Linked DNA regions of Homo sapiens: regions 1, 2, 4 and 5 are each reported to be linked to region 3. The links are microRNA targets in miRTarBase. Many come from high-throughput screens and were not tested one by one. Region 3 holds a microRNA gene; each other region holds the end of a gene's coding sequence. Distances are from middle to middle.

Region 1 (6,568 bases), 90 Mb from region 3:
TCTGGAGCATGCAGCAGCCAGAAAGCTCAGGTGAGAAACTGCAAAGTAGTTCTTGTCAGATGCATATTCACAGGAAAGTGATGCATTGTTTGCAATAGAGGCTTTATTTATTTATTTATTTATTTATTTATTTATTTATTTGTCTATCTATCTATCTACTTTTGAGGAGCCTTGCTCTGTTGCCCAGGCTGGAGTGCAGTGGTGCAATGTCAGCTCACTGCAATCTCTGCCTGTGAGCTGATACAGGAAAATTGCTTGATTTTCCTCTCTCAGACTCCTGAGTAGCTGGGATGAGAGGCATGCGCCACCACGCCCAGCTAATTTTTGTATTTTTAGTAGAGACAGGGTTTCACCATGGCTGGATTCAAACTCTTGACCTCAAGTGATCCACCCGCCTCAGCCTCCCAAAGTGCTGGGATTACAGGTGTGAGCCACTGCACCCAGCCAGCAATAGAGGCTTTAATACATCACTTGCCCTTGATAGGAAATCTGTTGATCCAGGAGGGAGCAAGAGACACCTGGAGGTAGGCTCTTGTGAAGAGAGCAAACTTAAAAAAAAAAATAGGGTGATGGTCTAATGAGTCTTCATTTGAATCGGGTTAGATAGTCAGGGAGAATCTAAGATTCAAGGCAAAAGAAGGAAATCAGGCAAGAGTGAGCATGTCTAAAGTCCAAGAGGAATTCTCTCAGGTGAACAGGGTCATTAAAGTGTCTCTTTTGAAGGATCTGTAGTCTTCATATGGGATGGGAGGAATAACTGAATAAATCAACATGACCTAGAGAATTTTCACTTTGACACGTAGCTTTGCAGGAACTGCTGAGTTCTGCAGCAGTGCAGAGGAGTGTCCTTTAAGCTTCTGCTCCAGTGCCCTTAAAACTACAATGCTTATATCAACAACCCTAAAAGCTGTCCTTTGTTCTGTACTCCTGGTTGCCTCTGATGGAGCCAGTGGCTGTTGACAGCTTGGCTGATTTCCTGGTCAGTGGTCATCTAGCTACTCTCCTCTGAGCCTCTGAAGGTGGGTCCTCTGTCTGCCTTGCTTAGATTTGCCACTTCAACTTCCTATAGGGAGTTGATTACCCTATCATTCTCTTTCTCTATCTGACCAGCCTAGCAGAATCAAAAAGTGCAGTCACTTTCCAAGCCCTCTAGCTGTAAATCTTCAAGGGAAGGAAAGGGATGTCATCCCACTATGCCTACCTGGAAAAAGGGGAAAAGAAGCAGACATCACTAAGCAGCTCCTGCAACCAGACTCAAAATACTATGTGATTCAGAGTCTGTCTTCTGTTATCTATGCTTCTATTCCAATTTCCTTCTATGTAGTGAGGTGAACCACACATGATTGGTTATCTCAGGAACATAGAGAAAGAACAGGAAACAGCCCTGACAGAATGCTGCAACAGAGAAGTCAAGAGGAAAAAATTATAAAGACAATGACCTATGGGAAGTTGCATTAGAGAAAGGAAGCGCTTTGTTAGTAAGTGCTGGTGGAGGGCTTGGAAGATGGATAGAGTCTTAGAAGGACTTCAGTATTAACAACTTTAAGAAAGGATTTTACAGAACAGGAGAAAATGGGATTCCACATACTAAGCATAGTAGTTCTATGCCCTGGGGCATAAAGTCTGGGAGTGAGGCCTAATTAAGAATGCAAGAGCTCAGAACTATTACTTTTTCCTTAACAGCAAACATCAGGACACTTCTGGAGAACAAGGTGAGCTAGACACCTTGGAATTTCTTCATCTTTCCTTCCTTCTCCCTATTTATTTTCTTGATCACCTCAGTCTTTATTCCTGTGTGTCTCTCCCAGGACTCCCAAGTCATCTACTCTTCTGTGAAGAAATCATAACACTTGGAGGAATCAGAAGGGAAGATCAACAGCAAGGATGGGGCATCATTAAGACTTGCTATAAAACCTTATGAAAATGCTTGAGGCTTATCACCTGCCACAGCCAGAACGTGCCTCAGGAGGCACCTCCTGTCATTTTTGTCCTGATGATGTTTCTTCTCCAATATCTTCTTTTACCTATCAATATTCATTGAACTGCTGCTACATCCAGACACTGTGCAAATAAATTATTTCTGCTACCTTCTCTTAAGCAATCAGTGTGTAAAGATTTGAGGGAAGAATGAATAAGAGATACAAGGTCTCACCTTCATCTACTGTGAAGTGATGAGAACAGGACTTGATAGTGGTGTATTAACTTATTTATGTGCTGCTGGATACAGTTTGCTAATATTTTGTTGAGAATTTTTGCAAATATGTTCATTGGGAATATTGGCCTGAAATTTTCTTTTCCACTGTGTCTCTGCCAGAATGTTTGTATCAGGCTGATGCTGGCTTCATAGAATGAGTTAGGCAGGAGCCCTTCCTCCTTGATTTTTTGGCATAGTTTCAGCAGGATTGGTACCAGTTATTCTTTCTGCATCTTGTAGAATTCAGCTATGAATCCATCTGGTCTAGGGCTTTTGTGTTGGTTGGTAAGTTTTTTATTACTAATTCAACTTCAGCGCTTGATATTGGTCTAGGAGGGGTTTCTGTCTCTTCCTGGTTCAATCTTGGGAGATTGTGTGTTTCCAGGAATTTAGCCGTTTCCTCCAGATTTTCTTCTTTATGTGCATCGACTTGAGTGTAAACATAACTTATATGCACTGGGAAACCAAAAAATCTGTGTGACTTGCTTTATTGCAGCATTTGTTTTATTTTGGTAGTCTGGAACTGAACCTGCAATATCACCAAAGTATGCATATAGTTGCAAAAATGTGATTTTTGACATAGTAAATATGAGTATTTGCAATAAACTATGATATTACTTTTGTAAGTATATAGAATAAAATGTAAATAATCTATAGATTTGATACTATCATATTTTCTTTTTTCTGTGAATGCACATTTTCCTTTTTTTCTTTCTTCCAACTTGTATTTTAGGTTCAGGGGGTACATGTGTGGGTGTGTTATATGGGTAAATTGCATGTCACAGGGGTTTGGTGTACAGATTACAGATTGGTATAGATTGTTACCAAGGTAATCAGCATTGTACTCAATAGGTAATTTTTCTCTTTCTTTCTTTTTTTTTTTCTTTTTTTTTGACGGAGTCTTGCTCTGTCACCCAGGCTGGAGCGCAGTGGCATGATCTTGGCTCACTGCAAGCTCGCCTTCTGGGTTCACCCCATTCTCCTGCCTCAGCCTCCCAAGTGGCTGGGACTACAGGCATCCACCACCACCCCCGGCTAATTTTTTGTATCTTTAGTAGAGACGGGTTTTCACCGTGTTAGCCAGGATGGTCTCGATCTCCTGACCTCGTGATCTACCCACCTCGGCCTCCCAAAGTGCTGGGATTACAGGCATGAGCCAATGCGCCCTCAATAGGTAATTTTTCAATCCTCACTCTCTCCTCACCCTCCACCCTCAAGTAGACCCCAGCGTCTATTGTTGTCTTCTTTTTCAAAGAAAAATTTTAAATTTTTGTGGGTATGTAGTAAGTGTATATATTTATGGGGTACATGAGATACTTAGTAAGTATATACATTTATGGGGTACATGAGATGTTTTGATACAGGCATGCAATGTGTAATAATCATGCCATGAAGAATGGGGTATCCATCCTCCCAAGCATTTATCCTTTGCATTTAAAACAATCCAGTTACATTAAGTTATTGTAAAATATAAAATTAAGTTATTACCAATTATAATTGTGCTATTAATAAGTAGGTCTTATTCATTCTTTTTATTTTGTTGTACCTATTAACCATCCCCACCTTGCCCCCTATTGTTCCCTTCGCTGCGTGCATGTGATTTTTTTTTAAAAATTTTATGGCTGTGAATGCACATTTTCATTGGCATTTTTTCATTCAAAATTTTAGGTGCAATGTAATTCATCTTTATTTCTGAAAATGTTTTACTGATCACTTTAATTTAAAAAAATTTCTGTGATCATAAGGCTCTGTGTTAAAACATTTCTTCTGCTTTGAATTATCTTTAGAATTATTATAGGTACAAAACTGATCAAAACTATGGGAATAAATTACACATTTTTTCAAAAATTATTAAACATAAAAAGGTAAATTGTATTAAAATCCACCTCTTAATGACTCATTGGAGTACTTTTTAACATTTTCGAATTGAAACATGTATCCACAAATAAATTTAGTCAACTGATTCACCAGACATTTATTGAAAATCTACAAGAACCAAGTGTTAGGGATATAGAATGTAAGTCTGCAAAAATCTCAACCCTCGATTTTATTTTAATTTTCTTTTTTACAGATGTCAGCACTGAGAAACCTTCACGTGAATAGACAGATTGGAATAAAATGACTTTTTATTTTTAAAAAATAGAAGTTTTACACAATTTTTTTAAGACTTGTCTAAGGATCATTAATGTGTCTTTATCACTTAAAAACACCTTGTTGAACCCAAATACACATGAAACATTGAGAAAAATAAGAATACCCCAACCTGCTTGACTGTCCTCCTTAGAAGCACACTTAAACAGTGATCTCCTTTAACTGGCCATTGGTCCTGTCCAGTGATGGCTGTAGGTAGGCACCATGGCCATGCCTTCAGTATTCTGATAGCTGCTGGCTCCAGGGTTAATTGTAGGGATGAGGTTACCCCATTTTGTGATAACCCCATGGGACATCCCAACTTTCAGTCCCGGATGCTCAGAGATGAGAAATTAGGTGGTGGATGTTTAGGGTGCTTAATTCCTATGAAGTTCTTTCCCAGGGACACTCAAAGGTATTTCCATTTATTTGCTTCTATCTACATGAAATCTTATCAAAATTTCTGTTGTATATGTGTCATTGTGCTTACACACATTTCTCCTAATTTTTGTTTCTTTGGTCATTTTAATGGTAATATGAAAAGAAATTCAGCATGAAAATAAAAATAATAATGAGGATGATAATAATCTTGAAACAAATATCTCTCTTCTTTATGATACTTTCTTTACTGCTTTTTTATTTATTTATTTATTTTGAGGCAGGGTTTTGCTCTGTCACCCACACTGGAGTGCAGTGGCATGATCATAGCTTACTGTTTTGACGTCCTGGGCTCAAGTGGTCCTCCTGCCACAGCCTTACAAATAGCTGAAACTACAGGCACATGCCACCTTGCTCAGATAATTTTAAAGATATTTTTGTAGAGATGAGGGTCTCACAATGTTGCCCAGTCCAGTCTTGAACTCCTGGCCTCAAGTGATCCTCCAGCCTTGGCCTCCCAAAGTGCTGAGATTATAGACATGAGCCAGTGTTCATGGTCATAATTTGTTAAATTTATATAAATATCACTTTTTTCTCATCTTCACTGTCTATTCTGAACTGTAATTCTGTTCCCTTATTTTGGTCTGTCCATTCTTGGCAGCTATCATGCTAATTTTATTTTTAGAGTTTAAGATGTATGATTATATTATAGCTGATATTTCCTCGTTAGCCATTGTTAAAAATAATAGCTAGTAAAATGAGTTTTGAGAGAAATTACTAAAGTGGGAGAAATTATTCTTCCTGATGTTAAGGATTATTATATAGCTACAGTAATAATGACAGGATGTTACTGGTGGAAGGATAGACACATAGGTCAGTGGAACAGAACACAGAACTCCAAAACAGACCTACACAAATATGCTCAAATGATTTTTGACAGTCTATAAAGCAATCGAAAGGAGGAAGGGTAATCTTTTCAATAAATAGTACTCAAGAGATTGGACATCCATAAGCAAAGGAAATGAACCTTAACTTAAGTCTCACATCCTATATAAAAATTAATTCAAAATGGATCACATGCTTAAGTGTAACATGTAAAAATTTAGTAAATTTAGAGAAAAACATGTGAAAAAAATCTTTGGGATGGCATAAGGTTAGGTAAAGAGGTCTTAGAGTTGACACTAAAATAAAGAATAGAAAACATTTATAAAAGAAAAAGTCACTGAATTGGATCTCTTCAAAATTAAAAATCTTACTCTGTAAGAGATCCTGTTAATAGAATGAAAAAGCAATTTAAAGGTTTAGATAAAACATTTGTATCCAATATCCAACAAATGACTTGTATCTAGACATTATCAAGAGCTATCAAATGCAACAGTAAAAATAAACAATCCAATTTAAAAATGGACAAAACGTGAACACTCTCCAAAGAGGATTTAAATACAGAAAATAGATAATAAGCACATGAAAAGTTATTCAACATTAGCCATTAGAAAAATATAAATTAAAATAACAATGAGATATCATTACACATCTATCAGAATGGCTAAAATGAAAAATGGTAATCATGTCGCCTTACAAGGAGATATGACATTCTCTAAGCATCCAGGACTGAAAGTTGGGATGTCCCATGGGATTATCAAAAAAATGGGGTAACCTCATCCCTACAATTAACCCTAGAGCCAGCAGCTATCAGAACACCGAAGGCATGGCCATGGTGCCTACCTACAGCCATCACTGGACAGGACCAACGGCCAGTTAAAGGAGATCACTGTTTAAATGAGCTTTTAAGGAGGACAGTCAAGCAGGTTGGGGTATTCTTATTTTTCTCAATGTTTCCTGTATACTTGGATTAAACAAGGTGTC
Region 2 (6,568 bases), 130 Mb from region 3:
TACAGCTTCTAACTTCTTCGTATGAATGTTTTTGGGGGATTGAGGACAAAGGGAGAATGGAAATGTCCCTAGTGCTCTTAAAACAAAATAGGGCAACATGTTTTATTTACAATTGAACCTAAAATTTAAGAGCCCACCAAACTGGAATCAGAATGAACAGAACAGGCCAGGCATGGTGGCTCACGCCTGTAATCCCAACATTTTGGGAAGCCGAGGCAGGTGGATCACCTGAGGTCAGGAGTTCAAGACCAGCCTGGCTAACATGGTGAAACTCTGTCTCCACTAAAAAATACAAATATAGCCAGGTGTGGTGGTGCACACCCATAATCCCAGCTACTCGGGAGGCTGAGGCAGGAGAACTGCATGAACCCAGGAGGTGGAGGCTGCAGTGAGCCAAGATCGCAGCACTGCACTCCAGCCTGGGTGACAGAGTGAGACTCCATCTCAAAAACAAACAAAGAAAAACAAACAGAATGAAAAATAAAACAAAGAAAACAAAACAAAGAAAAACAAAAAGAATGAGTAGAATATTTTATGAGTTCACATGGCACCCAAACTTAAACTCTAATTAAGAACCACTTTGAGAAACAGCACCAACTGGTGGTTAAAAAATCACTTACAGCACTTACTCTATGTACATGAACTGCATTACTTATGAAGCATTATAATCAAACTCAGGTTAAATAGCTTTTAGTAAATTTAAAGTGGACAGAAATGGAATTCAATGGCAAACAAAATCCTCAGACAGATCATTTGCTTAAATTCGACATAGCATGAACCCCACTTTTTGAATTTTGGCAATAAAACTAGTTTTATTTCATTAGCTTTACTCATATAAAAATGCTTCCCACTTTTCAGTAAATGGCACATATTTATAACTTCCAAGATGCCCTTATAAAGATTACCTAAAATAATACACAGAAACCCAAAACACATAAAAAACCTGCAAGTATTATCTATTATATACTAACTAAATATAAATCTTTATACATCTATTATACATTTTCAATTTTTCCTTAGTTATTATTCCAACAGATATAAACAATGCTGGGATCAACATACTTGCAAATGTGCCAACAAATATGCCAGAATATATAGGACATGGCATTTCAAAATTCCCACTCCAATTCTTAACTTAAGTCAACTTTAGTCATTTCTCCACTTTTTATTTCTATCATTAGAATAGCTGGGTGAATCTCAAACACAAGTGAATAAATAGTAGAAATTCAGTCAAGTAATATTAAGGCTAATGTAATTAAATTTTCATGTTGTACTTTTTTAAAGAAACAGAGCAGCTGCCAACTTTTCAGCTGAGAACAAATTTCTATAGTTCTTATTTTATAAATTATTTCTCAGCATTCTATATGGACTTTAACCAGACAAACCAATAATTTCTTTATTAAGAATCTTTTTTTAAAAAGTATGTGTATATGAAGGGCTTTAATAAACTTCCAAAAAAATTAAAAATAAAAAATTTAAAAAGACTTATCTTACTCATAATTTTGCATTTAAACAAGCAATTTCAAAACACAAAGTTTACAGCTACTTTCTAAGCCATTAATTTGACTAGCTTTTATAAATAATTGTTGTATTTGTAATATTATAAAATATACTGCTAGTCTCAAAAAATTTTATATACTTTAGTTCAACAAATATTCCTCCCCACCCCTCCAAAAAAGAACAATGTAATCACTTTAATTTTTGTTAGCAGTCAGAAAAATTTTTATTTAGGAAAAATATTCCCTCAATATTTATTAGATAATGAATCTTATTTAAATGAATAGTTTACTTTTACTTTTCTGTGTAGACCAATTTAAAAGTATGCCACTTTCCTTTCATAAGCAAACTGTATTTGTCTCATTCTACATGGCAGATCAAAAATTAATACTTCTTTCTGCCTTAAAAATTATGAGATTTTCCTCATTATGAATTAGTTGTTTTTATATGGATTACTGTTGTGCTGCTAAAAACAAATGTTAGTAAAAGTTATGGAGACATGGGAAAAAAACAAACTATAATACTAGTTAATAATGAAATACATTAAACATTGTTTAAATATTAAACAGTAAAATACTCCTATATTAAATAAATAATTAAAAATTGCATTTGTCAATGGGAATATAGGCCAATACCACCAATAAAAGGGATGGTCTAGTGCAAAGGGTGGCCACAAAACAACAACAACAACAAAAAATCAAAAACCACACATACATACAGAAAAGAAGGAAGAGGAAACACATTTAATACTGGTACTGTTTTCAATAACAAATTAAACCAGTGATTCTGAATCCTTCCTGCACATTCAAATTACCTGGAGAACTTTAAAAAAAATACTGATGACCAGGTCTTGTCTCAAATTACATGAAAATGGGAATCAAGATTCAGGCATGGATATTTTTAAAAACTCTCCAAATGATTCTAAAATGCAGTCAGGGTTGAGAGCAACTGATTGAAACCTACATATTTCTTACTGTTCCTTGACTGAGAAGAATGTCCTATAAATATAGAAATAGAACTTTTTCCTTTACAGGTTGGGCATACAAGGGTATCTCCAGTTAGCAGTAACTTATGGAGGGGTAAGTCAAGTTATTAATTTATACTTCATTTCCATTAAAATATCTACTTATACCTCTCTTCATTCCCTGTAATTCTGTACTCTCAAACTCCAAGACCAAGAAGAGTCGAACTACACTTTTATAATAAATTTGTTACACTGAAAATACATTATTCATTCATGCATGTAAGTATTTACTGAATGCCTACTATGTGCAAGGCACTGTGTTAAGTACTGCTATATAGGACCATGTCATGGGAGAATAAATGGGAGTGGCTGAAAATTTTTGTTTTTTAGAATAAACAGCTAAAAAATAATGGAATGAAATTAATTACATGGACCTAAATAAGAGACTAAATTGTCAAAGAGGAAAAGAAAAAGAGGTGCTTATACTAAGGGTCTGATTTTAAGATAGATGGTTATAGCCTATTTGTCCTTTTCCTAATGTTCCTTTACAGTATTTCCATAAGCCTTTGAATATACATAAGGCAAATTCAAAATAGAAAAATAAACCTCATTCAAAGTAGATGTTCCTAATTTTAACCATATTCTGTCTCAAGTAAAGTTCATAAATAAGTACAAATACCAAAAATCTTTATGGGAAGGTAGTTCATACTGACTTGTAGTAGTCTTGACAAGTAATCTTACATAAAAATATTACAGATTCTGGTCCTTGACTATTTCATCATGGAGAAAGTTTACACAACATGTAATTTATTTTGGAAATATATTTATATGCTAAGAAAGCCTAATGTAAACAAATTTGAGTTTTCTTTTATCTTTAAGGAAAGAAGACGCTAAAAAGGGAGGAAAATAGGGGTAGAATCTGTTCAAACCTTGTTAAGTATGCTAAAATCTAGTAATTTAAAATGCTGACTGTTCCCTTCTGAAGAGCCTTGTAAATATCATGTGAATAAATATCTTTTCTAGTTACTAGTGGTATGAACTATGTGATCACTTAAAAAATAATAACTTCTCATTTTTGTGACAGTGTTAAATTTCATTAAGAAGCTAGATAATGTCAGCTTAATACCTATGAAAGGCCTAAACGTTCACCAAAAATATGTTAACCTAGGAGAAAATTGCTGGGAATAAAAACAGAGAAAAAAATGACATAAGACTGTGATCAGCAAAAATTCCAATGGCAAAAACACTTTAGGAAAGTAAAGCTTCCTAGTTGCCTTTAAGGAAAAAAAAAAAACAAAGTGAAATCAAGGTTCAAGGCAAATGGTCACTTGATGTACCTTGGATGCAACATTTTGTCTGAAGTAGAGAAATAGTAAAATATTTCACTAAGTTAAAATATAGTTTTTATATTTTATACCATATTGAATACAGACATAAAAATACCAGTGTTTTTCTCTTGTTTCTTTTCAGACAATTAAGCAAATGTTTTCTTTGGTGCCTGGGAGTTTATCAATATTTAGGGATAATGGAAGATAAGAACTCCAAGACTGACAAGCCTAAAATAGAAGATTCAAAATCCTATACCATAAAAATTACAATCAAAAGTGGACTAAAGAGAAAAGGAGCTTAAAGTTATACTGCAATAGGGCTGATACATATTCTTCCCCCAAATCATACTCTGGCTCCCAAAATAAAAAATACTACAGCCTATTGTGGTTTTAATCTGTGTTTTGAGATTTTTTTCAAATGGAAAGATATTACAGATAGAAACACATCATTCTAGGTTTCAAAATCACCAAAGTCAGTGAGAAGAATGTACATTCATTTAAATGTAATCATTTGTAAATAAAGAAATCTTGAAAAGGCTGAACAGTTCAATCAAATTGAAGAATTGATCTAGATTTTTCATTATTCTTTTTAAATAATGAGTAAGTGTAGATATAGTGTACATACAAGTTGACATTCTGATTCATTCAAAATAGTCACATCCCTTTGCTTGGTTTTGGATGTTCCAGAGACTAAAATTTAATACCATTCATAACATAGTATTTTCAGTAAAAAGAATTATAGAGCAATGAAAAATCAGAAGATGGCTCAGAGAGCCTTATAATCTCTAAATATACACACATTTATAACCTGCATTTATTTTCTAAAGAAACAAATTTTAAGTAATGCTAATTTAACCAATGGAGAAAAAACTTCTATCAAAATATACAATTTCCATTACAGACTAGAAGGCTAATATTAAAAAAATAGTTGTAAGCCAAAAAGTTTGCTTATATGGATGACAGGTATCATCTCCTTGAAGCACAAAGCATCAAATAAGGTCTTATAAAAGATCAATCTGTGACCTTCTTCATTTTTAAGTTCTTGATAAATTCATAAAGCTTGAGTCTCAATTTCCAGAAATGGAGGAGCCAAATAATTCAGAATCTCAAGTGCGATTTATGCTTTACCATGTACCTGAAAAAAATATTATGGTAGGTTATAATGACTATAGGAATTTTAGAATTTTTAGAATAATGCATGTAAAAACAAGTTGACATTTCTTAAAACTTAAAATCAACAGAATAAAATGCTGTTTTCTAGAAAACTGGAAATATAAAGACTCTGGAATAAGCTAGAAATAACACTCCTCTTATTAAGTAATATAATCTAAGAGCTTCTAGCTAAAATAATATATGTTTCACAGATATGAGAGACTTGCACCAAAAATGTTACAGATTTTAAGGAGCATACCTCAAAGAGAACCGATTCAGTGGTATTTACTGTGATTATAGGCTGTTCTTAAATTTGCCGATTACAAAACTGTTATTAATGTAAAGGGCTTTATGAACACTATACTAGTAATTAAAATAAATTTTAAAAAACCATTTCCTTTTGTGAACCATCCGTAACACAAATAAATCCAGAATCATAGATCTTTCAGTACTTGCAAAAAACACAGGGTTCTCTTAATCCAAAGTTCCTTGGATAGAAAATAAGGTTCAAAAAGGTCACACAGATAATTAGAGACAGATTACAAAACCAAGACTAAAGTCTAAGTCTTCTGACTCAGTTTAGTGTTACTTCTATCAGGCTAAATTCTCCAACTAAAGTAATTATACAATAAAAAATTGTTAATTATGTACTGAAGATAAGCATCAAGTTAATGTTGAAAGAAGGGAATTAGGGAATAAGACTGACAACTCTATGGAACTTAAAATTTAACTGAGACAGAAAAATTACAATAAAACACACACAAGCATATTTTAGAATCGGAATTACCTGTCCAATGTTTCCCAAAACCGTAAGAACACTGGTCTATCCAAATGACGTTTGTGATAGCTGAGTTCTAATACTGTTACATCCCATTTCTGAACATTTGGATCCAGACGAACTTCATCATACTTCAGATGGAAGGCTTTAACTATAGAGAGGGTGGAGAGAAGTTATCATTTTTACTCAAAATAAAAAAAAAGAAAAAAATTTCTTTATTCCACCAACTGAAGCCGTATTATAACTAAAGTGATCTTTTAAAATATTATCTTTAAAAACATTCAGGGTTTATACACGCCAGCCACTGGACACTAAAATGAGGAATAAGGTAAGATAAAATGCATATAGTCTAGTGAAGGACAGTAAGAAAGACTATAAGGTTGGTACGTTATCACAGAAACATAAGAGTGCAACCATACCTTGGAGATATTGTGGGTTCAGTTCCAGACCACCGCAATAAAGTATCATAATAAAATGAGTTACGCATATTTCCTGGTACCTCATTGCATTTTTATAAAAGTTACGTAGTTACGTTAACACTGTATCACAGTCTATATTACGTGTGCAATAGCATTATGTCTAAAAAACAGTGTACATCCCCTAATTAAAATGTACTTTCTTGCTAAAAAATGCTAACAATCATCTGAGCCTTTAGCAAGTCCTAATTTTTTTTGCTGGTGTAGGATTATGCCTCAATGTTGATGGCTGTTGACTGAACAGGGTGTGGTGGTTGATGAAGGTTAGGGTGGCTGTAGCGATTTCTGAAAATAAGACAACAATGAAGTTTGCTGCACTGATTGACTCTGCCTTTCACAGAAGATTTCTCTACAGTATGTGATAATATTTGAC
Region 3 (4,000 bases):
AGTCAGCCTTAACATTTAGAGTCTGGATGTATTATGAATCACTGATAAAAATGATTATTTACCTGATGGTATTAGACCTCTTGGTAAGGCCAAGTTCTGTTATTTGAAAATATATTCTAGAGTGTTTTTGTTTTGTTAACATGCCATTCTAAAATACTTTCCCAAATATACCATTTTTTAAAAAGTCACTCTATGCATTAGGAAAAGAAAGGTTTGGGTTGGCTAAAACGGTACCCACTGGAAATGGGTTGTCACTCTAATGATTACAACTGCAAGTCATACACTTAGTATACCCCAGACTCTCCAAGGGCTTCTTTTGAGAAACCTGGGTGCATAGATCAAAGTTAGAGAATTTGTTTACATATCTCTCTTTCCAGCTTTCAAATCTATAAGCTGTTGAAATAGAAGCACTAGAGCCATTGGCAGAAAGCCTCAAGATGGATAGCTGTGTCTTGAGTAGTAAATCTAGGAGTTTCAGGGGTTGAAAAATTCCTGAGACTGAAAAAATATTGGTAAATGATGAAGGGTAGGGGAAAGCCAGAATAATGTCAGTCCTATTCTTACGTAATGAAAGCATTATGTTTCGCCTTGATCCTTGTGCTGTACACTGGAACCCAGTGTTGTCTTACTTGTTTCATTATTGCAAATGGTCACATGAAGCAGAATTCTTTCTATAAGTGGCAAGTGATTTTTCTTTCCCCACACTGAAAGCATTTCTGTATAACAAATTTCTAGTTAAAGTAATTAGAATGATATTATTACCAGTCAGTTTTCAAGTTAGATGGCTGAGTGTCCTGGGAGAATGTTGACTGACTTTTGGCAGAGTAATTGTGCTTTTCCATTTGTCCATTTATTATGGAATGTTAAGTGGACATCAAGGGAAGACAACTGGAATAAAGGGAACAATCTATTGATCATAAACAATTCTCTGAATTTCATCCTTCTACAAATTCACCCCTCACATTATCTACAATGGTGATGGGTGAATTTGTAGAAGGATGAAAGTCAAAGAATCCTTCTGGGAACTAATTTTTGGCCTTCAACAAGAATTGTGATATTTAATTCTGTGTTTTCTGATGCTTCTGAGGAAAGCTCCATAAAGAGAGCTGAATGGGGCAGAGGATTTTATACACTATAAGAACTATCCCTGCTATGATGGAACAGGCCATTGGTAGTATGATATTCACATAATTGTATTTCTGTGCTTCAGCAGATAGTCCTTATTAATAAAATATGTTGAAGCAACTGCTAAGAAGAAATGTATAACTCTACTCTCCCACCCCTACTACTACTCCCACCAAAAAGAGGTCTTCTTTCATTTACGACCATGTCTTCTTTAATTTATGACTATGTTATAGCCTGTGTTAAAACTATCTAACATTTTGGCTGGGCACAGTGGTTCACACCTGTAATCCCAGCACATTGGGAGGCTGAGGTGGGTGGATCACCTGAGGTCAGGAGTTCAAGACCAGCCTGACCAATATGGTGAAACCCTGTCTATACAAAAATTAGCCCAGCATGGTGGCGTGTGCCTGTAATCCCAGCTACTTGGGAGGCTGAGGCAGGAGAATCACTTGAACCTGGGAGGTGGAGGTTGCAGCAAGCCGAGATCGCACCACTGCACTCCAGCCTGGGCAACAGAGCAACTCTGTCTCAAACAAAAAAAACCTCTAACATTCTAATTAGATAGTTTTCATTGTTGGCTAGTGTCACTAGAATTTTAAAGTTACCTTTTAAGTTTCTTTACCACAATTTGAGTCAATGCAAGCAGAAATAAAAACTTCAAATTCTCCCTTTGTTCTCCTCCTCCCTCCTCTCCCACCAAAAAAGGCAAGTTGAAAAGCTCAAAATACATCAAAAAGATCTCAGAGACTTAAATGGAGTAGGGTTTGTAGTGTTAGGTAAATGGTACGGAAGTTGTCAGTATTCAAGATGGGCTTACATGGCCAGTCTTCTTTACTCTTATTGAATTGTGTGCCCCTTCAAACCAAGGCTGGAACCTGGAAGTTACCAGTATGAATCAGTTTTACTTACTGACTTGGTATAGAAAGCAACTGAAATCATGGGAGAAAACTATATTTTGTTTACCCCAGGATAGAGAAGATTAGGGACATGATGTTTGTTTGCTCATGAATTATCTCTCCCTTTGAGGAAATCTTCAGGCACTTCTTGACAGCTCTTCCTTTGGAATTGACCGTTGTGAGCATGTTATATTGGCAGGAGCATGGGAACCTTTGGCTTTGAGTGTGATTATTGTTAAGCACATTACTTGGACAACATCATTATAAGGCTCCTCCATAGGCATCGCTATAGAGCTCTATCTGGCTTGGTGGGTTTTGTTAAGTATTTGCAAATGAAAAATTCCAATTCAGAAACAGTAGGGCTCCTCCAAAACCTTTCCAAGATTTTAAAATTAGTATCTATAGTTTGGTATATCTAGTTACATACACTTTCTTCTAGTCATCTATTGGTTACTGGTCAATTTAACATTGTTGAGTAGATTGTGTTAGATTAGTCTCTAGTCTTAACAAAACACTCTTCTATGGTGTTGAATAATTTGCAGAAATTGTTACTAAACATCAGCTGTTTTATTTTAGCTTGGAGTGCTGAAAGGAATACTAGAGGGCTGCTGGTCTAACAATCATCAACCAAGCAGTTTAGACTGGAGTGTAAGGGCTAAGAGAACCCCTTGATACTCTACATAAAATTTCAGTGGTATTTGCTTATATGCATTTTTGAAGTAAGAGTGTTTGTGGTTCTTGTCAGGTTTGCAAATGGGTGGTTGACCCAAGTTAAAGCACTAATCCTTTAATTTAGCAGCTGGAGAAAGCTTGAACTCTGTGGTACTCGCCCACGGTGGCACAGCTGGCTGGAGCCAGGGCAGGATCTCCTCGTTGTACATCAGTGGTGTAGATAGGTAGATGGTACCTAACAACACGTGCACCACCCCATACAGGTGAGTCAGCCTTCTACCAAACAGCGGACTCTAAGATCCTTGCACAGAAGATGCACTGGTCTTTCTAAAATGATATATTTTCAATTTTTTAAAATCTCCCAATCAGTATTTCAGGGAATGAAGTGCAGTCTAGAATCTAGACTAGGTGGTAGGCTGGCCCTGTTTATAGTGCCACAGCTGCAGATCACCCACGTGTCTCATTTCCTGCTCTGAGTTTAGAATATAAATGAGGATATTCTCTTTGCATCCATACAAGTATATCCTGATTACTAAAATAAAAACCTGGTGACATCATTGACTAATGTGAAGAGCAGAGAAGCCAGAAGCAGCACATCCCTTAATGGTGCCCCCAATGTATAGAAGGTATTTTTTTGTTTTCACCTCCTCTTCTAACTTTGGGTCTTTCAGTATTTAAATGCCAGCTGGTCATAACATAGCTATTATGAGGTTCTTTTATGGGGAATTCACAACTTTATCTTGGTTAACTTAAAAAAATGAAGTTAAGATTATTTTCTGGATTATATTTTTCTAAGCAAAAGGAAGTTAAATGAGAGCAAGGCAGAATTCTGCTTGCAAAAGTGCTAGGGACTCTACATTGGAAAAAACCATTTTCCCCAACCCTACCTATTGTCTACACACTGATGCTAGAAACAGTTCCAGATCCTCTTTTGCTTTAGTGAGTCATTAGTAATGGTGTTAGTAGAGAGATAGTAGTAATTCTTTATAGGAAGAAGAGGTTCTGGCTTTGTTCTGGTCCAGGTTGTTTGCTAAAATAATTGCATAGTGAATCTATCTCTCTTGTGTTGGGGTGATCAGACCCAACACCAGGTTGTGGGGGTGACAAAGTCCAGCAGAGTCAAAGGATTGAGAAAAAGACAGTTTGAGAGAGAAAGTTGGGACACCAGGGGGCCATCACTAGTGTACAGAGGCTGTGAAGGCCCTGAGCTCTGGGAGCCCATGCTATTTATTGGTAATCCAACAAAGAAACAGGTGGTGAAAATGTGGAGGTCAAAAGAGCAGGCACATGATCTACAGCTGTGATGG
Region 4 (6,568 bases), not on the chromosome of region 3:
TTTTGTTTTGAGACAGTGTTTCACTCTTGTTGCCCAGGCTGGAGTATAATGGTGTGATCTTGGCTTATGGCAGCCTCCGCCTCCCGGGTTCAAGTGATTCTCCTGTCTCAGCCTCCCGAGTAGCTGGGATTACAGGCATGTGCCACCATGCCTGGCTAATTTTGTATTTTTAGTAGAGACAGGGTTTCTCCATGTTGGTCAGGCTGGTCTTGAACTCCCAACCTCAGGTGATCCGCCCACCTCGGCCTCCCAAAGTGCTAGGATTATAGGTATGAGCCACCGCACCCGACCAGGAAGGCCCTTTCAATGCAGTGTCCCTGTCCCTTAGTAAACATGGTTCAATGAATGTCCCAGGCTCTGACCACTCCTGTTTCTCTTTTACTCCTCCTGCCATGGGGAGGGGAGAGGAAGAAGAAAGACAGGATGTGAGCATTTTTTTCACTCCACCCTCCCACCCCTCAACATCATAAATAGGAACAGGGAAACCCTCTCCTTTCTGGAAGGCCAGGGTAGGTTGCAGGGCTTCCTGCAAAGACAGAGGAGATGAAAATGCTCATTACAGCTGGGTGCAGTGGCTCATACCTGTAATCCTAGTACTTCGGGAGGACGAGGTGGGCTGATTGCTTGAGCCCAGGAGTATAAAGATCAGCCTGGGCAACATGGTGAAAACCTGTCTCTACGAAAGATGCAAAAATTAGCCAGGTGTGGCCAGCCAGGCATGGTGACTCACGCCTGTAATCCTAACACTTTGGGAGGCTGAGGCGGGCGGATCACGAGGTCAGGAGATCGAGACCATCCTGGCTAAGATGGTGAAACCCCGTCTCTACTAAAAATACAAAAAATTAGTTGGGCGTGGTGGTGGGCGCCTATAATCCCAGCTACTCAGGAGGCTAAGTCAGGAGAATTGCTTGAACCCAGGAGGCAGAGGTTGCAGTGAGCCGAGATTGAGCCACTGCACTCCAGCCTGGGCAACAGAGTGAGACTCCATCTCAACAAATGATAAATAAATAAATAAATAAATAAATGGGCTGGGTGCTGTGGCTCACAGGCCGGGCGTGGTGGCTCACGCCTGTCTGTAATCCTAGGACTTCGGGAGGCCGAGGCGGGTGGGTTGCCTGAGCTCAGGAGTTCAAGCCTAGTCTGGGCAACACGGTGAAACCCCTTCTCTACTAAAACACAAAAAAATTAACTGTGTGTGTCGTCCAGCCTGAGCAACAGAGTGAGACTCCATCTCAAAAAAAAAAAAAAAAAAAAAAAAAGCCAGGTGTGGTTGTGCACGCCTGTAGTCCCTGCTACTCCGGAGACTGAGGTGGGAGGATCACCTGAACCTGTGAGGTCAAGGTTGCCTTGAGCTGAAATTGTGCCACTGCACTCCAGCCTGGGCAACAAAGTGAGACCCTGTCTCGATAAAAAAAAAAGAAAAAAAAAAAAAGAAATGCTCATTACACTCAGGGCCTGATTCAGAAACCTGATTTAAGTGACTTTAAGAATTATAATAATAGTAACTTTCATTCAAGTCGCTCTTGTTTGCTTTCTGTTGAACATCAGTTACAGAAACTTCGTGGCAAATTGAGATCAATGAGGCCAAAAGGAAACTGATGGAGAATATTCTGCTCTACAAAGAGGAAAAAGTGGACAGCATTGAGCTCTTTGGCCCCTGATGACCGGAACACAGCTGAGGACCCTTGTCCTCAGTTGGAAAGATGAGCATCAGATCAAGAAAAAGGTCTGAGGCAGAATCCAAGATCTGCCAGGAAACACACAACAAAACATCTGCTGTCCTGGGTGGGAGGGAAACTTCATTTCACTGGAATGAGTTGGGAGAGAAAGGCCCTCAGCTTTTAGAGACACAAAAATCCATGAAGTCTCTTCCTTTCTGGGCTTTGTTAGTCAGAGCAGGGGATCAGAGGAGACTGAAGCAGAAACCCTGCACACGGGCCCAGGATGTGGCTGATTTTGTGGTTCCGGGGAGTATGTGATGATAATCACCCCCAGCAGATTCCATTACCTCAGCAGCTCTTGTTCCCCCGCCACTGGCAGTTCTGCAATGCCATAGCATTTTCCAGAGCTAAGATCTCTGGGTTGTATTTGCTGACAGCCTGCAAGCTTGCATGCTCTGAAAGATTTTTTTTAGTTTTTAATTTTTTTGTAGAGATGGGGTCTCGCTTTGTTGGCGCAATCCTCCCACCTCAGACTCCCAAAGTGCTGGAATTACAGTTGGGAGCCACTGTGCCTGGCCTGGAAGACTTTCAACTTGTGTCTCAGTGCAGTTCTTGACTCACCTCTCTGGGCCTCAGGTTCTACAAATGCCAGACACCTAGCGAAGAGCTCTGCAGGCTTTCCACTGCCTGTATTGGAAATCTTGCAATTCACATAATTATTCAGTCACTGCCTGGTACCTTTATCTTCCCATCCCACTAATGTTAGTGTTTTTTAATGGAGCTTTTATTCTGAGAATATGTGTTTGTCTGTTTGTTTGTTTTTTGAGACAGAGTCTCACTTTGTCACCCAGGCTGGAGTGCAGTGGCACGATCTCAGCTCACTGCAAGCTCTGCCTCTCAGGTTCAAGTGATTCTCCTGCCTCAGCCTCCTGAGTAGATGGGACTGTAGGCACCTGCCACTATGCCTGGCTAATTTTTGTGTTTTTAGTAGAGACAGGGTTTCACCATATTGGCCAGGCTGGTCTCGAACTACTGACCTCGTGATCTGCCCGCCTTGGCCTATCAAAGTGTTGGGATTACAGGCTTGAGCCACCGCACCCGGCCGAGAATATGTGTTGTTATTTATGACTGGATTATGAAGAATCAGGAGAATGCATTTCATGTCTGATTCTGCTGCTAATTAAGTCAATCATTTAATTTTTGGGACCTCAGTTTCTTTGTAAGTAAAATAACACCTGCTTGTTCTTCATCCCTGGGCTGTTGGGAGGAACAGATGAGACAGTGGCTATAGAAGCACTTGGAAAATGCACTTGTCCTGTTTTGTAAAATAAAAAGGTATTAAATGTGTATTTCTGCCATGTACCTAATGATTATTCAGTGCGTATATATCTGAAAAGTCATGTTGCAAATCTTTCTGTGAAACAGATGCTATTTTAAATTCACTGGGAGAAATATCCTATTTAAAGTAATCTATAGTAATTTCTTTTTATATAATAAAAATATATTTGTAAAGTCGACAGACAACTTGTAATTAGTTTTGTGTCTGGAAGAATTTGTTTAGAGAAGGCACTCTGTATCCTTGAGATGGGGTAGCAAAGAGCTAGGATCCTGGCTCTTACTGTTGACTGTTAATAGCTGCATGATCTTGGGCCCAGTTAGGGAGTTACTCTGAGGCTCTGTTTCCTCATCTGTACAATGGGAAAAAGAAAACGTACGCATCTTGTAGGGTTGTTGTTGGATGGGTCCTGCCTGGTGAAACATTTGGCAGCTCCCCAGTAAGGACAGCTTTGGCTTGATGTGTGATGTAGCTGAGCTGGGTCCCAGTCCAGGTGGACAGTGATCTATACAGACAGCCCTGTCTTCAGCTCTGGTGTCTGTGAGGATTCAAGGTGAATGTGCATTTTGTGCCCCAAATGGGACCTGGCCTGTTGCGAACACTTTACAATTATAAGCAGAGTGTTTCCAGGGCTGTTTGCGCAATAGAGGGCTGACACCAATAGGTTTGTGGTTATCCAGACATACTTACATTTCTAGACTAGGATTTCATATATTTTTGGAGAAGTCAGTAAATCCCCTTGGGACTTGGATGAAAGCTCTAGACCTTTGCTACATACAGACATACATACATATGCGTTCTGAGTCCATGAATTCCAGACCTTCATGGGCACCATGATGTCTTTTCATGGATCCCCCGTAGGGAAGCCCTGAATTATTTTTTTTTAGGTTAATAGAGGATTTAAAAATCTAAACAGTACAAAGGTTCCATGGTGAGAAGGCAGGCTTTTTCTCAATGGGATCTTAGTCTCCAGTTTCTTGTTCCCAAAGGCAACCACTGTCACTAGGTTGGAGTATCCTTCCAGAGGTGATGGAAAACAGAGGTGATGCTCAACTTAGTCATCAGGGAAATGCAAATCAAGACCTCTATGAGATGCCACTTCACATTCACTAGGATAGCTATAATCAAAAAGACAAAAACAAGTGTTGGCCATGATGTGGAGAAATTGGAGCCCACACACACTGTTGGTGGGAATTGAAAATGGTGAGCACTTTGGAAAACAGTTTGGCACTTCCTCAAAAGGTAAGAATTTCCATATGACCTAGCAATTCTACCCCTAGGTATCTACCCAAGAGAAATGAAAACATGTCCACACAAAAGCCTGCACACCAATGTTTATAACAGCCAAAAAATAGGAACAACCTAAATATCCATCAACTGATAAGTGGATACATGAAATGCGGTCTATTCATGCAATGGAATATTCAGCCATAGAAAAGAATTAAGTACTTGTGAAAAGTAAAGTAGAGGTTCCTCTTCAAAGACTTTCCTCCCCATCTAATTAGGAATAAATAGTAACTTCTCTTAGAAGCAAAATTTATTCAAAGACCTAACATTCTTAAATACCTGCTAGCCATAATAAATCAATGTACTTTATGTTCTTAACTCCCACAATTTAGCCTAAATATTTGCCCTGGCACGGTTATACTGGTGCAAGCAAGCATTAAGTCATAGCCTGTTCCTCTTCCTTATTTGAAAGTGTTTTTACCTTTCTCAGCATTCCACAAGTTACTTCCTCCTTCCTTTGTTCTCCTCTGCTTTTGCCTCTGAAAAAATTCTAAGTTGTTAGCCAATCAAGACAAATACAGAATGTGAAGTCCCGTTTCAGCCAATGGAAACTGGACCCAGAGGTAGGGTGGATACGTCAGGTTATAAATGACCCTGTCTCCTTTGTTGGGTGTACTCGTGGCAAAACTGCTGGCGAGTGTACCCTTTCTGCAGAAAGTGTAAAAATGGCCTTGCTGAGAAAATTATTTATGTTCAAGTGCTATTTCTTTATGGCACTGGGGAACAAGCATTTCAAACATACTGACACGTTACAACATGGATGAACCTTGAGATCATGGTAAGAAAAAGCAAGTCACATATTGTATGATTCCATTTTTAATTTTTTCAGAATAGGCAAATCTATCAAGACAAACTAGATTACAGTCTTGCTGAAATTACAGGAGTGAGCCACCAGGCCAGCTGGTCATACACCTGTTTTCTTTCTTCTTTTTTGTTTTGAGACAGAGTCTCCCTCTGTTGCCTAGGCTGGAGTGCAATGGCACGATATTGGCTCATTGCAACCTCTGCCTTCCAGATTCAAGCGATTCTACTGCCTCAGCCTCCTGAATAGCTGGGATTACAGGCACATGCCACCATGCCCTACTAATTTTTGTATTTCTTTTTAGTAGAGATGGGGTTTCACCATATTGTTGAGGCTGGTCTTGAACTCCTGACCTTGTGATCTGCCCACCTTGGCCTCCCAAATTGCTGGGATTACAGGCGTGAGCCACCATGCCTGCTGCTCATACACTTTAAATGAGTGAACTTTATGGTATATAAATTATATCTTAAAGCTGTTAGAAAGGAACACACAAAGTGGTTACCCTCAGGCATTTGAAAAAAGAAAGCCACATTTACCTTTGTATGCCACTCCTCTCTATTTAGCCACACATGTGTTTTGTTAATGCTTTTCTAGGTCCTTTGTTTTTTCATGTCTTTCTTGGCTATTGCTCCTCAACAGTAAGTTTAGATCACTTCATTCTTTTTGCCTTACATTCCATTGTATGGATATTCCTTAATGTATATAACCAGCTGATAGAGATTGAGGTTTTGTTTTCATTCTAGCTACTACAGACAATGCCACCTTCCAAGGAGATTGTATCAATTAACACGTTCATCAGGGATGTATGGGAGTGCATTTCCTCACATCCTCAGCCACAAGGTATATTATCCTGCTTTTTTTTTTTTTTTGAGATGGAGTCTTGCTCTGTTGCCCAGGCTGGAGTGCAGTAGCGTGATCTTGGTTCACTGCAAGCTCTGCCTCCCGGGTTCACACCATTCTCCTGCCTCAGCCTCCTGAGTAGCTGGGACTACAGGCATCTGCCACCAGGCCCGGCTAATTTTTGTTTTTTTTTTTGTATTTTTAGTAGAGATGGGGTTTCACCATGTTAGCCAGGATGGTCTCGATCTCCTGACCTCGTGATCCACCCACCTCGGCCTCCCAAGGTGCGGGGATTACAGGCGTGAGCCACCGCACCCGGCCCCTTACCTTGTTTTTTGATTATTGCCAATCTAACGAGTGGAAAATTATAATTTTATATGTACTTTTTAATTTAATTTAATTAATTAATTTTTTTTTTTTAGAGACGGAGTCTCTCACCCAGGCTGAAGTGCAGTGGCGCAATCTTGGCTCACTGCAAGCTCCACCTCCTGGGTTCACGCCATTCTCCTGCCTCAGCCTCCCGAGTAGCTGGGACTACAGGCGCCTGCCACCACGCCTGGCTAATTTTTGTATTTTTAGTAGAGGCGGGGTTTCACCGTATTAGCCAGGATGGTCTCGATCTCCTGACCTCGTGATCTGCCC
Region 5 (6,568 bases), not on the chromosome of region 3:
TATAAAACGGGGATGATAGTATTTTGTAAAGGTTAAATAAATTAATATATAGGTAAATCTTTTAATACAGTACAAGGCATATTGTAAGGGCTAAGTGTTCACTGTTATCATTGCTACCATACACTCTGTGTAGACAAACCATAGTTCTCGTAAGCAAGCTAGCAAAGCTTGAGCCCTGGAGAGGGCTCAGGACCCAGGCCTATTCCTGCCTCCTAAGGAGGCTCTAGGTTCTCAGGGCACCTTGGTTCCCCTCTGCAGATGACTGTTATCCCTTCTTCCTCCTTTCCTCACTATATATTCCAGGCCTCCAATACTCAACAAATGTTTGGTAGCAGCCCAGTGGTTTTCAGGATGGAGAAACTCATATTCAGAGGGGCTTGGGGACTAAGAGGAAACCCACGCTCTTCAGTGATTTCAGTCGGAGCCCAGTCCCGGAGCCCTGCCTCCCCTCTCTATTGTACCCCTTCCTCCATGCTGCCGCCAGCATCCTGGGTGACCTCCAAGAGCTGCCTCCTGGAGTAAACAGCAGAGGCCGGGTGGGAGTGCAGGGATGGGGCATCTGAAGCCCCAGTTGTGATGACCAAGGTGCCACCAGCCTGCTGAGGTGGAGTGAGAGGGAAAACACGGACTCTACTCCCTCACCCCACGTAGCTTCTGCTCCAAATAATTAAGCTCCAGTTTCCTCCCTGATGAGTTTTGGTGCTGACACCAAAAGGAAACACCAGGAGCCCGGTACGACTCTGCCATGCCCAGAGCTCAAGCTTCGGAGGCATTACTGAGAGGGGGAGAGAGCGTTCCTTGGGCGTGAGTGAGGCCCAGGGCAAGGAACCCCTCCTCTGCTCTGCCCTTCTGGTTCTCCTCAGCTAATTTGTTCAAGTTTGGAGAATGCCAGTAGTCACCTGTATCACCAGTGGGCCTTCTCAGATGCAAGACTTAAAGCCAGTAACTTTTAGACCAGTCTCCTGGTTTCTGTGAGCACCAGATCCTTGTGTGGAGCCTAGATGATAAACTACGTAACAGAGGACCTTTGAGGGCTCAAATGCGGTAAACAGCTCATTCTGCACTAGTGCTCTGTCCAGATGGTGCCTCATCACCTTGGACTGCAGCGGTTGGTTTATGTAAAGGTCTCCTCCTCACTCCTTGTTTCTCACAGGCAACTACCATGCTTCATTCACCTGGCACATGACAAGCATTCACGTAGTTAAGTGCAACTGACCGTCAGGTCAGGTCTGGTCTACAGATGGGTTTTATTTTGCTTGCAGAGTATGTAAATTTTTTATTTGTTGCGATCACATCTCGTACAAAAATCTGGATTCCCCAGATTCTCTGGACAATTTTGAAGTTGGGGCATTAGGGTCCATCTTCCTGCATGGTGACAATCAGCACCTAGGACAGGCTGCCCCGTTTAGATGGATGCTGTCCACTGTGCCTGTCCCCATCACTCCCTCCTCTCACATGGGAATTGCCTCAGCTTCCTTCATTGATTTGACCTCCCTGGTCTCTATAGACAGCGGAGTTAGCAGCTCCTGTTGGTGACTTAGGCAGGAATGGAAGAGGTCTCCATCGGCCCCACCAAAACCAGTTGTCAATACATGCCTGTGGCAAAGGCAGCATCTGAGGCTTGCCAGGCAAACAGCAGCTAGAAGACGCCTCTGGAGAGACCCTTGGTCAGCAGGTATTCTAAACAACCCAGCTATTTCATGGTAGTCAATAGCACGGATGTGTGGTTGATTTGGCTGCACTCAATCCTTTTTCTAGTCCAGTCTCTGGTGAAAAATAGGCGAGGGTATGCCATTTGTGCAAGAAGGGGGAAAGGTAGGCACTTGGCTTCACTGAACCACCATCAGGCATCAAGGAAAAGGCTTCTTGGCCTTCCCATCCAAGCAAGCATTCTAATCATGGTCACCAGGAAAGTGGCCAAGACACCCAACAATATAAAGAAAGGGTGGTGGGGGTGACAGCAGGTCATTCCAGGCTGAGGCCAGGGCATGCAGAAGCATGGAGGTGCAGGCTACTGGGGTCTATGAAGGGCCTAAGGATGGGGCAGGAGGAACAGCTGGAGCGATGGCATATGCCATGTTAAGAGAGTAAGCTGTGTGAGAAACCAGGGAGTGAGGATGCAGGGGAACAAGTCATGGCTTGAGGCTTCTGCTTGGAGAAAGAAAGACAATTCACTTTAATAGTAATTCCCAAGATGGAGAGGCACCATCACTCACCCTCATTTTTTATTTTTATTTTTTTTTTGAGATGGAGTCTCGCTCTGTTGCCCAGGTTGGAGTGCAGTGGTGTGATCTCAGCTCACTGCAACTTCCGCCTCCTGGGTTCAAGCGATTCTCCTGCCTCAGCCTCCTGAATAGCTGGGATTACAGGCGCCCGCCACCATGCCCAGCTAATTTTTCTATTTTTAGTAGAGACAAGGTTTCACCATGTTGGCCAGGCTGGTCTGGAACTCCTGACCTCAAGTGATCCACTCACCTTGGCCTCCCAAAGTGCTGGGATTACAGGCGGGAGCCACTGTGCCCGGCCTAGGATTTTTTAAATACGATTTTTTCCCCAGAACGTCAGTATAAGAAAACACGTTATATATGAAATGTATGAAATGGAGCAGGTCTGGTGATGGGGCTCGCAGGGGGCTCTGGGCAATCTTCAGTGTCTTCTTTACGGAGGTCCCCAGCGTCGGAGTGGCACAGGTCGGAGACCGCTGATCTCGAGTAGGACTGCATTTTAAACGCAGAACGAGCTGCCCCAAGATAGAGTTCCTTTTGCCTAAGAAGCCAAGAGCTCCTATAGAGATGAACAATTCCACTTCCTGTTGCCACATTTTTAACTATTTATTGAATGAGGCAGTCAAAGACAGAATGGGAAACAACACAGAATCCATGCTCTGCTACTGGGGTTTTGCTTTTTTCTTCGTCTTGGCAACTTCTCAAACTATTTGGAGGTTATTTCACCACAAAGGAACATGGACTTTAAAGTCCCTGGACAACTTCACAATGACGATAAAAAATAATAATTAAAAAAATAACAAATTGTAGAACTAGGACTATTTATATGTAAATTTCCCTCCCCTCCCCCCATTACGTACAGAAAAGAACATATAAAGAACATTAGATAGTTTTATATAAAACAAGCAAATACAAGAATCTGAAACTTCTCTCAAAGGTTGAGCAAGACGTGGAGAATCTTTTAATGTCGCATTAAAAAAACACATTAAATACACCATCACACACATGGGGAGAGCTGGGAGGAGGGAGGAGGAGCTGTCCCTGTACTCAAGGTTCAGAGATTTGGCCTGTTGAAAAGTCAGGTGAATTCAGCTACTGGAGACTCAGGGCTTGCAGCTGAGAAAGACAGAGTTAACGGTTACCAAGAACACCCAGATAGTCAACACCTCTGAGGAGGCAAGCTGCTCCCGGCCTGGGCCACGAGGTTGCATCAAGGAACATGGGCCTCCAGGAGTCCCTTCTGAAGCAGGGCCTGATCCAGGAACACAGCAAACACCCTCAGCTGTTTTCTATGGCCAGGTGTCCCTTCTTCCCTTCCGCGTACTGACCGGGCCCAACCAAGCTTAGCTTCCAAGATCACACAAGATCAGGGGCGTTCAGGGTGCTGTGGCCACAGACCAGATGTCTCTTCTTGTTCATTCCAGCGCCTCCTCTGTGAAGCTACAGACAGTAGAGAAAATTGCTCCCACGGGTGTATCCTGGTCTAGGACGATTTTTCTTTCCTTCCTTTCCCTTCCACTGCCCCCGCCCCCTTCCCATCCTCTCCCCCACCATGCACGCACACACACAAGCACACTTACACGCACGCACTCCTCAAACCCCTAATACTTCGGTTACCTTCAGTTCATATATACGAGCAATTCAGGACTGACCTTAAAACCAGAGCAACATTTTAATAGTCATGAGATCAAGGATTCCTGGGAAGGAGAGGAGATGGGAGGCTGAGGCCCGGGAGCTTTCAAGACATTCATCTGCCTGTGGCAAGGTCAGCACCTGGGCCAGCCCGAGGAGCATCTCAGCTGGCAGACCACGCAGTCCCTGGACCTTGCAAGCACATCTCTGACCCACCCCATGCTGGAGCCTCTTTCCTCAGGTGAGTCCAGCAGGGAGAGTTCTGTGTGGCCACTGGGAGGCAGCTTTGGTGAAGGGCATGGTCACCTCCGCCTGAGTTTGTCAGTAGCTCAACGCATGACCCTGGTATGAACAAAAACTGGGTGACTGTGTCTGGCCACGTACCCTACCACCCACTAAACTGGGTGAATTATTGTTTCCACAGCGCACCTTGATTTCATACAGATAATTCCATGCGGGTTTCATACATATATATATATATATATGTATATATATACTTTATATATATGTAAATGTGTATGTCCATATGTACACATATACATATATTCACACTCACACATACACACACATAAGTATACACACACATTTCCGCAGAAAGAAGTCCTGCCACAATTTGGCTTTTTTGGGACAGTGAAATTGACAATGCAGTTTCTTCACCAATCCCAGAAAATCAAGAGTGGTGCTTTAAAAAATGCAATTCCAAAATCCGCTTTCTTCCTTTTAAAAAAAAAAAGGTTAACAAAACTTTCCTTCCAAAGTCGAGAGACTTAATTCCATTTGATTGCACCTCTGCAAACGTGTAAAAAATTTTGAAGTAGACTAGAAAACGATGCCATAATATGGCTGTATGTCACTGTTCCAATGTCACCACCTCCACAGCTTGGCCGTCCATGGTGACTGCGCTGTCTGATATCCTGGTGGTCACAGGGGCCATGGCCACCTGCACTGGTCCGTTGCCCTGGGCGAGGCTGGTCACCACAGTCTGGTACATGCTCACAGGGATCTGGACCAGGCCTGGAGAGACAAAGAGAAGACCGTTGGTGGGGCTCAGGCTCAAGTTCCCAGATGCTGGCTGGACGGGGGCACCCAAGTCTTGCCTTTGAGGTATCGTGGTCACCAGCCTCAGGTGATCACATACCCATGGCCCAGGCACAAAGACATCTCTTTCCCACCCCATTAAAATTTTTTTCATTAATTTTTAAGATTTATAATTGATATATAGTAACTGTTCATGTTTATGGGGTACAATGTGATGTTTCAATGCATGTATACACTGTAGAATGATCAAATCAAGAAAATTACCATATTAATCTCTTTAAAGATTTATCATTCATTGTGGTGACAACATTCAAAATCTAGCTATCTTGAAACACAGACTACATTGTTATTCGCTACAGTCACCCTACTGTGTAACTGAACACCAGAACTTATTCTTCCTTTGCACCTGCTGGCCAACCTCTCCTGCCCCCCTCCCCAACCCTTCCCCAGACTCTGGTAACTATTATTCTACTCTCTACTTCTAGGAAATCAACTTTTTTCCATTTTAACTTTTTTTTTTTTTTTTTTTAAGAGACAGGGTCTGGCTCTGTAGCCTAGGCTGGAGTGCAGTGGCGTGACCACAGCTCACTGCAACCTCGAACTCCTGGATTCAAGTGATCCTCTCACCTCGGTCTCCTGAGTAGCTGGAACCACAGGCGTGTGCCACCATGCCTGGCTAATATAATTTTTTTTTTTTTTGAGATGGAGTCTTGCTGTGTTGCCCAGGCTGGTCTTGAACTCGTGGCCTCAAGTGATCCTCCCACCTTGGCCTCCTGAATAGCTGGGATTACAGGCGTGAACCACCAACCCTGACCATTTTGATTTTTTTAAAACAGACTATCAGAAAAGAAAAGTTTAGAGAAATTGTGGAAACATGCCTTAGGGTAGGGCCTTCCCAGCTTGCCGTGAGAGGGCCCTGCCTGCCTCCGCATCTAGGAAGCACAGGCCCGTCAGGTGTGAATGTCCCCGGCCTGTCTTCTCCCTCTCAGAACAGGCCACCATTATTTTTCTTTGATATTTGGCTACACTGCCTTCTTCAACCCTCTTTCTGCCTATGCTTAAGTCTCTCTCAGCTTGAAAAGAAAAATCTTGTCCCTCTCCTATCCTGTCTTCTGGCCACTGCTCCGTCTATGTGCCTTCCTTCATAGTCAAGCTTATTTTATTTATTTATTTATTTTTAAAGCCTAGGTCACTTGTTTCCTGATTTCTAGATTTCACACACCAGTAAAATGTAAAAACACATTTTGGGGTCAACTTAAAAAAAAAAGACCCCAGCTACTCCCTAATATCACTATTATTTCAGAGTAGAAAGGATGGCTTAAAGGAAGAAGCACATAACCTCCATAAAGGTAGTCCTGCCTAAAAAGGGAAAGCTGATAATACATTAAAAAAAAGGATTCCCAGTAAGGCAGTAACTAACATATACATCAATCTCTCTTCCTTCTGAAACTAGAATTACAGTGAATGAGGAAAAAAGGATATAACCGAGGGATGTCAACATTTTTTGGGAAGATGCAAAGCAAATGTGAAATGGTTCTGATTGAACAGAGAAGTGGAAGGGGCAACTCCTATGCTCACACAGGGCTCAGCACATAGAGGCCTAGCTACGGCAGAAAGAGGGATGAGGCTAAAAATGAGAATGAGTGGAAAGTTTGAATTTAATTGATTAGACC

Evidence for each region. Region 3 holds the annotated microRNA hsa-miR-1262 (AUGGGUGAAUUUGUAGAAGGAU, at 979-1,000, shown strand). A microRNA usually pairs through its seed, bases 2 to 8, with sites in the 3' UTR of a target mRNA and lowers its output. Matches are read on the target gene's strand: a 7mer-m8 pairs with bases 2 to 8, a 7mer-A1 pairs with bases 2 to 7 and ends in A, and an 8mer does both.
Region 1: the mRNA of FCRL2 is a reported target of hsa-miR-1262. The part of its 3' UTR that is shown has no 7-base or 8-base seed match.
Region 2: miRTarBase lists CDC73 as a target of hsa-miR-1262. Seed matches in the 3' UTR shown: 7mer-m8 at 1,188-1,194.
Region 4: the mRNA of IRAK2 is a reported target of hsa-miR-1262. Seed matches in the 3' UTR shown: 7mer-m8 at 2,505-2,511.
Region 5: the mRNA of NRF1 is a reported target of hsa-miR-1262. Seed matches in the 3' UTR shown: 7mer-m8 at 4,259-4,265 and 7mer-m8 at 4,217-4,223.

Annotation. Positions count from the first base shown.
Region 1 is chr1:157,742,015-157,748,582 of GRCh38, reverse strand. It overlaps FCRL2 (Fc receptor like 2), which reads left to right. Exons shown (of 12, transcript NM_030764.4): 10 at 1-30; 11 at 1,684-1,712; 12 at 1,809-2,850. The coding sequence ends at 1,847. Among named protein-coding and RNA genes, the nearest start is that of FCRL2, 32 kb to the left of the region's middle.
Region 2 is chr1:193,249,032-193,255,599 of GRCh38, reverse strand. CDC73 (cell division cycle 73) reads right to left here. Exons shown (of 17, transcript NM_024529.5): 16 at 5,729-5,870; 17 at 785-4,924. The coding sequence ends at 4,888. Among named protein-coding and RNA genes, the nearest start is that of LINC01031, 52 kb to the left of the region's middle.
Region 3 is chr1:68,180,576-68,184,575 of GRCh38, reverse strand. It overlaps MIR1262 (microRNA 1262), which reads left to right and starts at 966; the gene lies at 966-1,058. All of the region lies in intron 2 of WLS (Wnt ligand secretion mediator), which reads left to right. The region is part of intron 9 of GNG12-AS1 (GNG12, DIRAS3 and WLS antisense RNA 1); the gene reads right to left.
Region 4 is chr3:10,240,568-10,247,135 of GRCh38, forward strand. It overlaps IRAK2 (interleukin 1 receptor associated kinase 2), which reads left to right. Exons shown (of 13, transcript NM_001570.4): 13 at 1,549-3,178. The coding sequence ends at 1,661. Among named protein-coding and RNA genes, the nearest start is that of TATDN2, 4.6 kb to the right of the region's middle. RefSeq lists a silencer at 1,989-2,058.
Region 5 is chr7:129,753,321-129,759,888 of GRCh38, reverse strand. NRF1 (nuclear respiratory factor 1) reads right to left here. Exons shown (of 11, transcript NM_005011.5): 11 at 2,813-4,871. The coding sequence ends at 4,708. It also overlaps the pseudogene RNA5SP244. Among named protein-coding and RNA genes, the nearest start is that of MIR182, 14 kb to the left of the region's middle.